Linked DNA regions of Homo sapiens. The protein of the gene in region 2 purifies or fractionates together with the protein of the main gene of each other region. This does not show direct contact. Each region holds a gene or a part of one and is shown on either strand. Other genes may lie near its edges.

What was found.
Region 1: the proteins of RFT1 (region 2) and GPR107 purify together in Homo sapiens (co-immunoprecipitation; one large-scale study listed by IntAct). This does not show direct contact.
Region 3: the proteins of RFT1 (region 2) and SLC18A2 purify together in Homo sapiens (co-immunoprecipitation; one large-scale study listed by IntAct). This does not show direct contact.

The regions. Positions count from the first base shown.
Region 1 is NC_000009.12:130,098,906-130,102,405, reverse strand, and holds part of GPR107 (protein GPR107 isoform 3 precursor), read right to left. Parts: intron 2,950-3,500; coding exon 2,874-2,949; intron 1,778-2,873; coding exon 1,704-1,777; intron 1,301-1,703; coding exon 1,183-1,300; intron 1-1,182. UniProt on the Homo sapiens protein: Has been proposed to act as a receptor for neuronostatin, a peptide derived from the somatostatin/SST precursor.
Region 2 is NC_000003.12:53,092,436-53,095,935, reverse strand, and holds part of RFT1 (man(5)GlcNAc(2)-PP-dolichol translocation protein RFT1), read left to right. Parts: intron 1-3,317; coding exon 3,318-3,500.
Region 3 is NC_000010.11:117,265,114-117,268,613, reverse strand, and holds part of SLC18A2 (synaptic vesicular amine transporter), read right to left. Parts: intron 1,882-3,500; coding exon 1,803-1,881; intron 1,631-1,802; coding exon 1,579-1,630; intron 942-1,578; coding exon 878-941; intron 1-877. UniProt on the Homo sapiens protein: Electrogenic antiporter that exchanges one cationic monoamine with two intravesicular protons across the membrane of secretory and synaptic vesicles.

The DNA.
Region 1 (3,500 bases), on a different chromosome or scaffold from region 2:
CAGGCTGGTGGGGGGAGACTCTAGAGGGATGAGGGACTCTACTAAAGGGAAGAGGCACACGCAGCCGGGTGACAACCCAGTCTCCGTCATTCACAACTCCGAGACCTCGGCAGGCTGTAGGACTCAGTCTGGCTGAAGAAGTGACCACGGTGGCTCGACAGCCGAAAGACCGGCACAGTCCCTCAGCATGTTTTGCTTAGCAGACAGCAGGGTCATGTGTATTTACTGCCTCTGTCACATTCCTTTCCTTCAACACCCAGGCCAGCCCTATCTCTGTCACAAAGCCCTCCTTGATCCTTCCAACTTGAGTGCTTATTCTCTCCTTGGAAACACAGAGCAACTGGCCTGTCCCATTCATTTGATGTCAACACATGTTCCTCATTATTGAACGTAAGGGTGGATGAGGTCTGTTAGAACTCCGAGAGGAGCTCTGCTGCAAACTCTGCCAGAGTTGGGACGGCTGATCTGGGTGCCTCAGGAGTTGTCCCCTTCCACCCCCAACCTTCCACATTTACTTTGTGCTCCAAAATGTGAGAAAAGTTCACAGGGACAACTCTGTCAAACAGACGCTGTCTGGTCAAGCAGAGCAGGGTAGCTGTGCATCCCTGCTAAAACCTCTCTGTTCATTGTAAGTTCTTTACATCCAAGTTCTGCTTCCAGTAAGACAAGGCTCCTCCCGCAAAAGACTCACAGCCTTGTAAGGCTGGCCTTGGCCCTCGGCCCCAAACATGGTAAGGATTTAGGAAATGTTTGCCCCTCACGTCTACTACCATATTCTACCTGTGGAAACTCACTGGTGTAGTTCACGGTTTTAAAATACTTTGTTAATAAAATCACTACATCTCTGAGCTTCCTTGCCAAGGGCACCATTTAGTTATGAAGCAAATGATGCAGAAGAGAAAACAGTACTGTGTGTTACTGTGTGTCTCCCTGTCACTGTCAGCAGCTCTCTACTCAAAATCTAGGCCCCCAAAGGCCAGTGGCTGACTGATGCCCAAGCATCTCCCAGTGCAATGACCTGAAGTCTGTTCAGAATTCAGAAAGAGAATCTCAGTCTTCAACCTCCACTAGCAGAAGCTGGGGTTTCAGGGTGAGGTGACTCCCTCTTCCCATACAGGCTTGGAGCTGAGCCCTGCTAAGCGCCAAGAAAGGAAGTGACAAATGGGATGAGGGTTCTTTTACCTGGAGTGGAATGACAATCATGAAGATCTTTTTGTCTTTATCAGAAAGGATGTGCTTAATGAAAGCCCAGCCAGTGCCAATGAGTGCAATGGTGATGAAGAGTAGCGCCCCTTTCAAACTGGAAGAGAAAACAAGGAACAGACACCAGCAGGTCTCTTTAGACTCTCACTGCCAGTTAGATTGCATAGCTCATTCTATGAGTTCACAAGCTTCTTACAAAAGACGGGCAGCCAAATTTAGGAAATCCATCATACATGAGCACCACTTCCTTCAGGGCACACAGTTAGCTCTGCACCCCACAGCCTGGACAGCCAATGGCCGCAGAGAGGCAGGAGTATGCCACTAAGCCCGACTTCCCAAGTCTGGACAGCCACCCATGAGCTACACTCCTCTGGTATGGCAGGGGCCCAGACAGGCTGCCACAGGAGGGCAGGGCTGGTTAACTTGGGGCAGGTTGTTGCCCACCCCCCTTGTCTTGTATGTCATTTCATGGTGTATTTCACATGGACCTGCATACTTACAGGTGAGTTATGTAGTACACAACAGCCCAGCCTTCGATAGGGAAGCCCTGGGAGGAGATGTAGTGGTAGTCAATCTGAAATCAAACAACTGCATTTCAGAATCACTCATTATCTACATGGCTCCACAAAGAATCTTTTAACTTGGACCCATTTGGGAAATTATCCAAATCATTGTCATTTGGTGACGCTGCCACTGGATATATTATTGCCTTTTCCAAGGAGGCCACTTTCAAGTACAGCAAAGAGTACATGTCTAGAGACTGTCATCCTTGCAAGTGTGCTCCACGGGCACTTGGAGGCCCACAGACAGGAGAAGTTGTGATCTTACCCCCTTGGGCAAGTTCATTTTAATTTGCATAAGTTCCAAATATACAAAGCTGAGGCTCAATTCTCATGCCTCCAGCTTTATAGCATCAATTTTCTCTCAGATAAATATGCTAATACTGAATTGAACTTCAAATCACAGAGGAACATGAGGGAATATCTGGAAACATAAAAAAGTCGTGGAGGCCGGGCGTGGTGGCTCATGCCTGTAATCCCAGCACTTTGGGAGGCTGAGGCGGGCGGATCACGAGGTCAGGAGATCGAGACCATCCTGGCTAACACGGTGAAACCCCGTCTCTACTAAAAATACAAAAAAATTAGCTGGGCGTGGTGGCGGGCGCCTGTAGTCCCAGCTACTCGGGAGACTCAGGCAGGAGAATGGCGTGAACCTGAGGGGAGGAGCTTGCAGTAAACAGAGATCACGCCACTGCACTCCAGCCTGGGCAACAGAGCGAGGCCCCGTCTCAAAAAAAAAAAAAAAAAAAAAAAAAAAAAAAAAAAAAAAAAAAAGTCGTGGAAACAAGTCAGCAGGTGGCACTCTCATCTCTAGAAATGGTAAAAAAACAAAACAAACCAAAAACAAAGAAATAAAAACAATAATAAGTGTTCTAGAAAAACTGTAGGTCTGTAAGCAGTATTAGAAGATGTCTGAAGTCTAATATGAGGGGAGGTGGTAATCATTTACCCGCATGGCCAGGCCCTCCCAGACAAGAGGAGGCTTTATGAGAAATGTATTCTTTGTCTTTGTTTCCCACCAATCTATCCCCTTTCTTCAAATTTCTTTTGCCTGCTCACACAGGCATTATACGTAATTTCATGAATGATCCTCAAAATGCTAATACATACTGCATGGAACACCAAGGAAAGAGACTTGGTGAAAGGAAGGGCCGCCATCAGCCAGTGGATTTTAAATACATCATTCCTATAAAAACAGAGAGAAAACAATTAAAGGAAGATTCCATTCTCCCAAAGGACAGCCAAAGCTCCAGACATTAGCTATATTTATAAGGAGACAGGAAATATAATCTGTGCAAACCACAAACATGAAACTTTTTTTTTTTTTTGAGACAGGGTCTTATTCTGTCGCCCAGGCTAGAGGACAGTGGTGTCATCACGGCTCACTGCAGCCTTGAACTCAGGCTCAAGCGATCAAGCAGCTCTCAGGAAGCTGAGGTGGGAGGATGGCTTTAGGTGTATGCCACCATGCCCAACTAATTTGTTTTGTATTTTTTATACAGAAAGGGTTTTGCTAAGTTTCCCAGGCTGGTCTTGAACCCCTGGCCAAGCAATCCACCCACTTCGGCCTCTCAAAGTGTTGATATTACAGGCATGAGCCACTGTACCCAGCTAAAACTTTTTTTTTTTGAGACAAGAGTATCGTTCTGTCACCCAGGCTGGAGTGCAGTGGCACAAACTTGGCTCCCCGCTAACTCCACCTCCCGGGATCAAGTGATGCCCCCCCACCGCCTCAAC
Region 2 (3,500 bases):
AGTGCCAAAGTGGACTCCATAACTGTCAAATGAAGGCTGGGTATGATCTTCTCACTTTGGCACATAAGATATCAGTGCCATCCTTTTCATGGCTGTGAAGGCTCGATTGTATGGCTGTGCCTTGATGTATTCAACCAGCACCTGCTGGGGGCTTCTTCAGGTGGTGCTACAGTTGATATCCTCGACCATCCATGCCTTTTTTTTTTTTTTAACTTTTTTTGAGACAGGGTCTCACTCTGTCGCCCAGGCTGAAGTGCAGTGGTACAATCATAGCTCACTACAGCCTGACTTCTTAGGCTCAATCGATCCTTCCACCTCAACCTCCTGAGTAGCTGAGACTATAGGTGTGTACTACCATGCCCAGCTAATTTTTGTATTTTTTGTAGAGACGGAGTCTCTGGGCACCATGTTTCCCAGGCTGGTCTCCAACTCCTGGGCTCAAGCGATCTGCCTGCCTTAGCCTCCCAAATGCTGGGATTACAGGCATGAGCCACTGTGCCCAGCCAGTCCATCTTTTAATAAGCCTGATTTTAAGTCCAGTATTTTCTTGGGACCATGGAGAAATAAGTATTCATAAATAATTTACTGTTTATGTTAACCAAACCTTACAGGATAGTCATATTGTCACCGATTAATAATTTTGCTTTGATTTTAAAAAGTGATTTTTTTTTTTTAAGACGGAGTCTTGCTCTGTCTCCAGGCTGGAGTACAGTGGCGTGATCTTGGCTCACTGCAACCCCCGCATCCCGGGTTCAAGCAATTCTGCCTCAGCCTCCTGAGTAGCTGGGACTACAGACGTGCACCACCAAGCTCAGCTAATTTTTGTATTTTTAGTAGAGACAGGGTTTCACCATGTTGGCCAGGACGGTCTCGATCTCTTGACCTCGCGATCTACCCGCCTCGGCCTCCCAAAGTGCTGGGATTACAGGCATGAGCCACCGTGCCCGGCCAAAAAAGTGATATTTTAATTGCATTTTTAAAATTCTCATTTTTTCCTGAAGTGGATTATGCCTTTAAGGCTGTAGATTTGTGAATTCTGGAAAGTTCAGCAGCTGCAGGGCCCTCTTCTAGTGGCAGACAATGGACCCCATCATCAGCTCCTCTCAGATGGCCATATCAAAGAGGCTGTGCTGTCGAATGCGTCTCTGCTTGAATTAGCATGAATTAACTATTGGCTTTATTCATTATTGTTATTTTACTCGGAGTTGGGGAATGATGGCTAAAAGTTTGTGAATCTATGACTTAAACTCCAAGGATTGGTATAGTAGACCTTTCTGAGATAGTTTCTGAAAAACAGGTTACATATCTCTGCTGCTTTGTGGAAAAGAGGTCAAAGTACTGGTCTGTGATGGGTCCCATTTGAGTGGCTTGTTCTGAAGTTGACCTTTCTGATCACTGATTAGTAGTGAAAAAACTTCCCCTGTGAGGTACAGGCTCTCGTACTTCATTAAAAGAGACTCTCTCTGGACTGAAAAGCAAATAAACTCCCTCTCTGGAACTCCGGATGAAAGCACATCTCTCCTGTTGGAGTATAGTATTGTGTGTGAGAGTGTGTGTGTGTGTGTGTGTGTGTGTGTGTGTGTGCGTGTAGTATTTTTACCACCCACTTTGATAAAGCGTATCTCCACAGCACACAGCACCTTGGCCTGAATCAGCCAAGGACCTATACCTGGGCATTTGGGGGATGCAGTGGCTTGCCTTCTTTTTTCTTTTTGGTAGAGACATGGTCTCACTATGTTGTCCAGGCTGGTCTCAAACTCTTGGCCTCAAGCAATTCTCCTGCCTCAACCTCCCAATGTGCTGGGATTACAAGCATAGTTCTAGGGTACTGGCCAAGTTCTAGGACCTCCTCCCACACCTGCAGAATCAGGAACTCTGGTGGTGAGGGCCCCATATGCATTTTTAAGTCATCATTATATTTTGAGACAGGGTGTTGCTCGGTTGCCCAGGCTGGAGTGCAGTGGCATGATCATAGCTCACCATAGCCTTGAACTCCTGGGCTCCAGCCTTCTTCCTCTCTCAGCCTCCCAAGTCGCTGGGACAACAGGTGTATATCACGGCTAATTTTTTAATTTTTTGTAGAGACACGGTCTCATGATATTGCCCAGGCTGATCTGAAACTCTTAGGCTCAAGCGATCCTCCCGCTTCAACCTCCCGAGTAGCTAGGACTGCAGGTGTGTGCCACCAACCCTGGGTAATTTTTACTGGGTTTTGTAGAGACGGGGGTCTACTAGCTCTGTTGTCCAGGCTGATCTCGAACTCCTGGCCTCAAGCAATCCTCCCACCACTTCAGCCTCTCAAAGCACTGGGATTCTGCTTTCTGACGACCCCTCATGTGCAGAATCTGGGTGGTGGCCTCTGAGGTTTTCTAACCCAGCAGACATGGCTTGAGGATGTCAAAAGTTTGGTTCCCTCAACAGCTATATACTTTGAGTGCCTGCTTGGTGCTAGGCGGAAACCAGAGGCTAGGGGATTTTGTTCTTGGCTGTACAAGCCTTTTGGAGGACTATGGCAGCTATTTCGTGTTTGCTGAGAATCTGTTTTCTTTTTGGAGGACTGAAGATAACTAAGTGATGTGCTGCTTTGAAATCAGAGAAGTGCAAGAAGCGCCAGGATCCAAAGAGCTCTAGAGATACAGAGAGTGGGAGTGAGGATATGTAAGAGTCTGGAAAATAGCAGAGGTGATCCAGGCTTTGGTTTCAGTTCCCATTTCATTTTGGAGGCCAGTCATTTGCTTTGAATGGGGTCTACTGCCCAAGGTTACTGGGTGCTGCATTTCCCAAGGGCAGTGGTGTGAGGTACTGAAGCTTAGGGGTCAGAAGTCCGGCTGAGTGTTACCTCACTCTTGAGACAAATTACTCAACTTCTCTGTGCTGCTTCCCTTGTCTGTGAAATAAATCCAAGCTCTGCAGGGCAAGGCCCATGTGTGTTCATTCTCCAGTGTGTCCCCAGCACTCCTCACAGGGCCTGTCACAGAGTTAGCATCCAATGTCTAATTACCCAGGTCACATTCTTGTATCTCACATTGAGGACTTGGGCTGAACAGGGTTTTTATGTTTTGATCACAAAGTATCGCTTAACTAACTAATTATTGTCTTCAAAAAACATACATCTCCTGAGTTGTTTCTTACCTTTCTGCTCAGGGTAAGGGGACAGGGACATTCCCATGGTCTCCAGGTAGCATTCGATGTTATGAAAACCTGGATTCCAGGAGCTCAGGTTCTTTCTGTGAGTTGATGTTCATGGCCGCTGTTTTGGGAGCAGCCTTGTCCAGGGCAAGGTCACCACTGCCCTCCTTTTCCTGTCTCCTCCCCAGGTACAATTTTGTGATGCTGGCCCTGTCCTCCTCATTCCTGGTGTTATCCTATCTCTTGACCCGTTGGTGTGGCAGCGTGGGCTTCATCTTGGCCAACTGCTTTAACATGGGCATTCGGATCACGCAGAGCCTTTGCTTCATCCACCGCTACTACCGAAGGAGCCCCCACAGGCCCCTGGCTGG
Region 3 (3,500 bases), on a different chromosome or scaffold from region 2:
GGGAAGCACCAAAAGGATGCAGGCCAGGGGCCGTACAGTTAGCAACCTGCAACTCTGCCAGACCTGCAGAATGGCAAGGGGAGCCGCCAGAGGACTAGCACCCTCCCTAAAAAGATGGGCCAACCAGACAGTGGAGGACAAGGGGAGGCAAGGCAGAGGACAGGCAAACGGTCACCTGAGAAGGACCTAGAGTACCATACTGAGTTCTACCCCAGCCTCAGCAGCCTTCTACCATCTGTCCTCAGTGAAAGCCATGCTGTGCCACTGTACCACTCAAAGGTTGCGTTCCTGCTTCTACAGGGGTGGACTGAGCACTTATTTTTATCATGATCAATTGGTATATTATAAATAAGAGACAAAAGTATACCATTCACTCAAAATAGTGACAGATTTTTCCTAACATATTATCATTCTTAACATTACAAAAGCCCATCTCCTTGCCCATGGGAATTCCTGCAGCACAGGCGGTCATCAACACATTAGTCTGCTTTGTCTGTACTAAAACCTCTTCAAAATACATATGTGAAGCCTTTGCCCCCAGCCTCATGAGAAGACCTGCTCATAGGGAGGAGTCCACAAAAATGAGCTCTGTGCAAGGGATTCCTTTGTTTGCCCAGCCCCAGCAGTGGAGCATCAGTTTCCTTCTGTAAATATCAGCTTTTAAAAAATACTGGTTTTCAGGAAATAAATGACTAGTGCATAGAAGCAGGTGTCTTTACACGGAGAATCGACAGGCTGTAATTTAGCTAAGCTGCCTGCAGCCTCCTTCTAAGATTCTGGAAATTTAGGTTGAGGAACTACAGTCTACCAGAGGAAGAAGAACCCTTCCTAGTGGAAAAGCGGTTTTAAATGTAGGCACAAGGTTCGTGTGACTTACCAATTGCAAAACCAACTCCAAAGTTCGGAGCTATGAGTCCATAAATGTTTTTTGCAAATGGAATCTGTAAGAGGAAATAAACATTATGCTAAAATAACAAGAGATCCAACTCTAAATCATCTCGGAAAGTCTTGAACTTGTGTTTTCTCTGAGCGTGGTATGCCTGTTCCCTTCTGAAGAAAACAGGAGGAAGAAGGGTGGGGTTTGTGAAGAACCGGACCCTCCAAATCTTTAAAAGTCAAAGCTTGAAACGAGTTTTATGACCACCATGAAAAACTTGTCACCGGCATATGTGAAAGATCAGCCTAGTCCACCCTCAAGTTTTGACAAGAACAAGTAGGCCTCATGAGGGATGGATATTGGCCATTGGTAGAAGAGATTTTATTCTAGAAAAACATCTTGCTATTGTTTCAGGTTGGTTGTCCTGAAGTGTTTAAGACACTGTCAAGCTTAAGATGATGCAGGGGAAAAGTTAAACTGTGAAATAAAACATTTTAAATAATTTCTGACATAAAATGAAAATACACTCCTTGGAAAGTCTTGTCCAAACATTTTTAAGATGATAAAAAATTAGAATAAAATGAAAGCTGTAATAAAACATCAACAAACTCAAACGTAAAATGTTTCTTGGTGATTCTTGCCCAAAGCGCAAGTTTTATTCACAGATTGTTCCCACTTGTCAAATGCCATCTTTTACTCACACATAAAATGCTGACTCCAACAATTATCATTCCCAGAAGAGCACAAAGCCACCTACCAAAAGAAAAAGCACCATCAAGAAATGATCATTTGATTTTTTTCTAGTCCAAATTTTCAATGAAAATCAAAACAATTACTTGTAACAGCAAAGGCAGAAACAACTTAGAATTTTTTGAAAGAACTACATTATTGTAACAGAATGAGTGTTGTTTTCATATCATCTTACCTCCCCATTTTGTGTGCAAGTATCCCAAAAATATTGGTTCCAATGAGATAAGAGATACTAGCTGGCAAGAAGGCAACGCCTGTAAATTTATGAAAAGGAGACCTTATCAGTGCTGATATCAGTCATATGTTAGAAAAAGTAATAACTGTAGACACCACAATGTTGATGAGAGCAGATAAAACGAAGCCCCGGGGCCCACACCCCAGCAGCTAATATCCGGCGCCTGCCGGATCCGGTCTGGACCCACGTGGCTTATCCTCCACACAAAGCTGCTGAGACACTCCAGAAATGAAAGTCCTTTCTCTATCAACTGCTTCATCTTGCCTCCATCTCTGGCTGGTGGTGGGCTTCACACGTGGGCCAATACAAACAGCTCCTGCCTGGGAGCTCAGCACCTGCAATCTTATGTGTGATTTCATCCGACAGAAGTAAGACGCAGTCATTGAAAGAATTAGGGAACCGTGAGATAAACAAAAAGAAAAATGTTAAAATTACCCCAAACCCCATCCATTACTCAGATAATCACCACAGTTATTTTCTCCTGTAAGTTTATTTACATATATAAATATATTTATGTGTGTTTTGATTTACAAAAAAAAGGGATTATACTCTATCCTGCTTGTTTCAGTTAGCTTTATGAACATTTTTCTATGTCAGAAACATAAATGTCTGCCTGGTCATTTTTTGTTGTCAAGTCAGATTTTTTTTTTTTTTTTTTTTTTGAGATGGAGTCTCGCTCTGTCACCCAGGCTGGAGTGCAGCGGCACGATCTTGGCTCACTGCAACCTCTGCCTCCCAGGTTCAAGTGATTCTCTTGCCTCAGCCTCCCAAGTAGCTGAGACGACAGGCATGCGCCACCACGCCTAGTTAATTTTTGTATTTTTAGTAGAGACTGAGTTTCAACATGTTGGCCAGGCTGGGCTCAAACTCCTGACCTCAGGTGATCCGCCTGCCTCAGCCTCCCAAAGTGCTGGGATTACAGGCGTGAGCCACCACGTCCGGCCTCCTATCCAAGTTTTATTGCTGTCCCCATAGAGGACACCTGCATCCCCCAGGTTCTGATGTGCCCAGGGTGATTCCCTGCTGGTGGTGGCAGCAGTGGCCTTGAACCTGTCCTCCGCATTGAACAGAAAGGCCTAACCATTATCAGACCCAGCTTGGCTACAGGGGAATTGTCCACATCAGCTGTGTCTGGTCCTCATCCATCCAAGCTGTGTGTGGTCCTCAGAACCACAGGACAATCTCTTTATGAGTGACTGCTTTTCAAACTCCTAGTGATTTTAGTATTTTTTCCTTGAAATCAGATATACCAGACTTGATTCCAAGCCTTGCCCACACATAGTAAAAGTTACTTTGTTCTCAATCAGAGGACTGCATAAGTGAGACATGCAGGTAGATATCAGATGACCGAGTGCCTGCTACACTCAAAATGCATGGGGCCTGGAGGTCCTTCTCATCCCAGCAGCTGGCCACACACTCACGGGCAAGTGTGATCTTGTCTCTTTAGGATAAAGCACGAACGTCTACCATCAAACCCAGAAACAGGCTGAGTCTTCCAACACAGCAGGGACTTCCAAATAAATGGCTCCATGAGCTAAATCCAAAACCAGATCATTCTAGACATGGGAGTTCTGGGAAACACTAATAAAGAGCAATCTCATTTCATTTTCCAGAGAATTATTTCTGTCATGCTTAGCA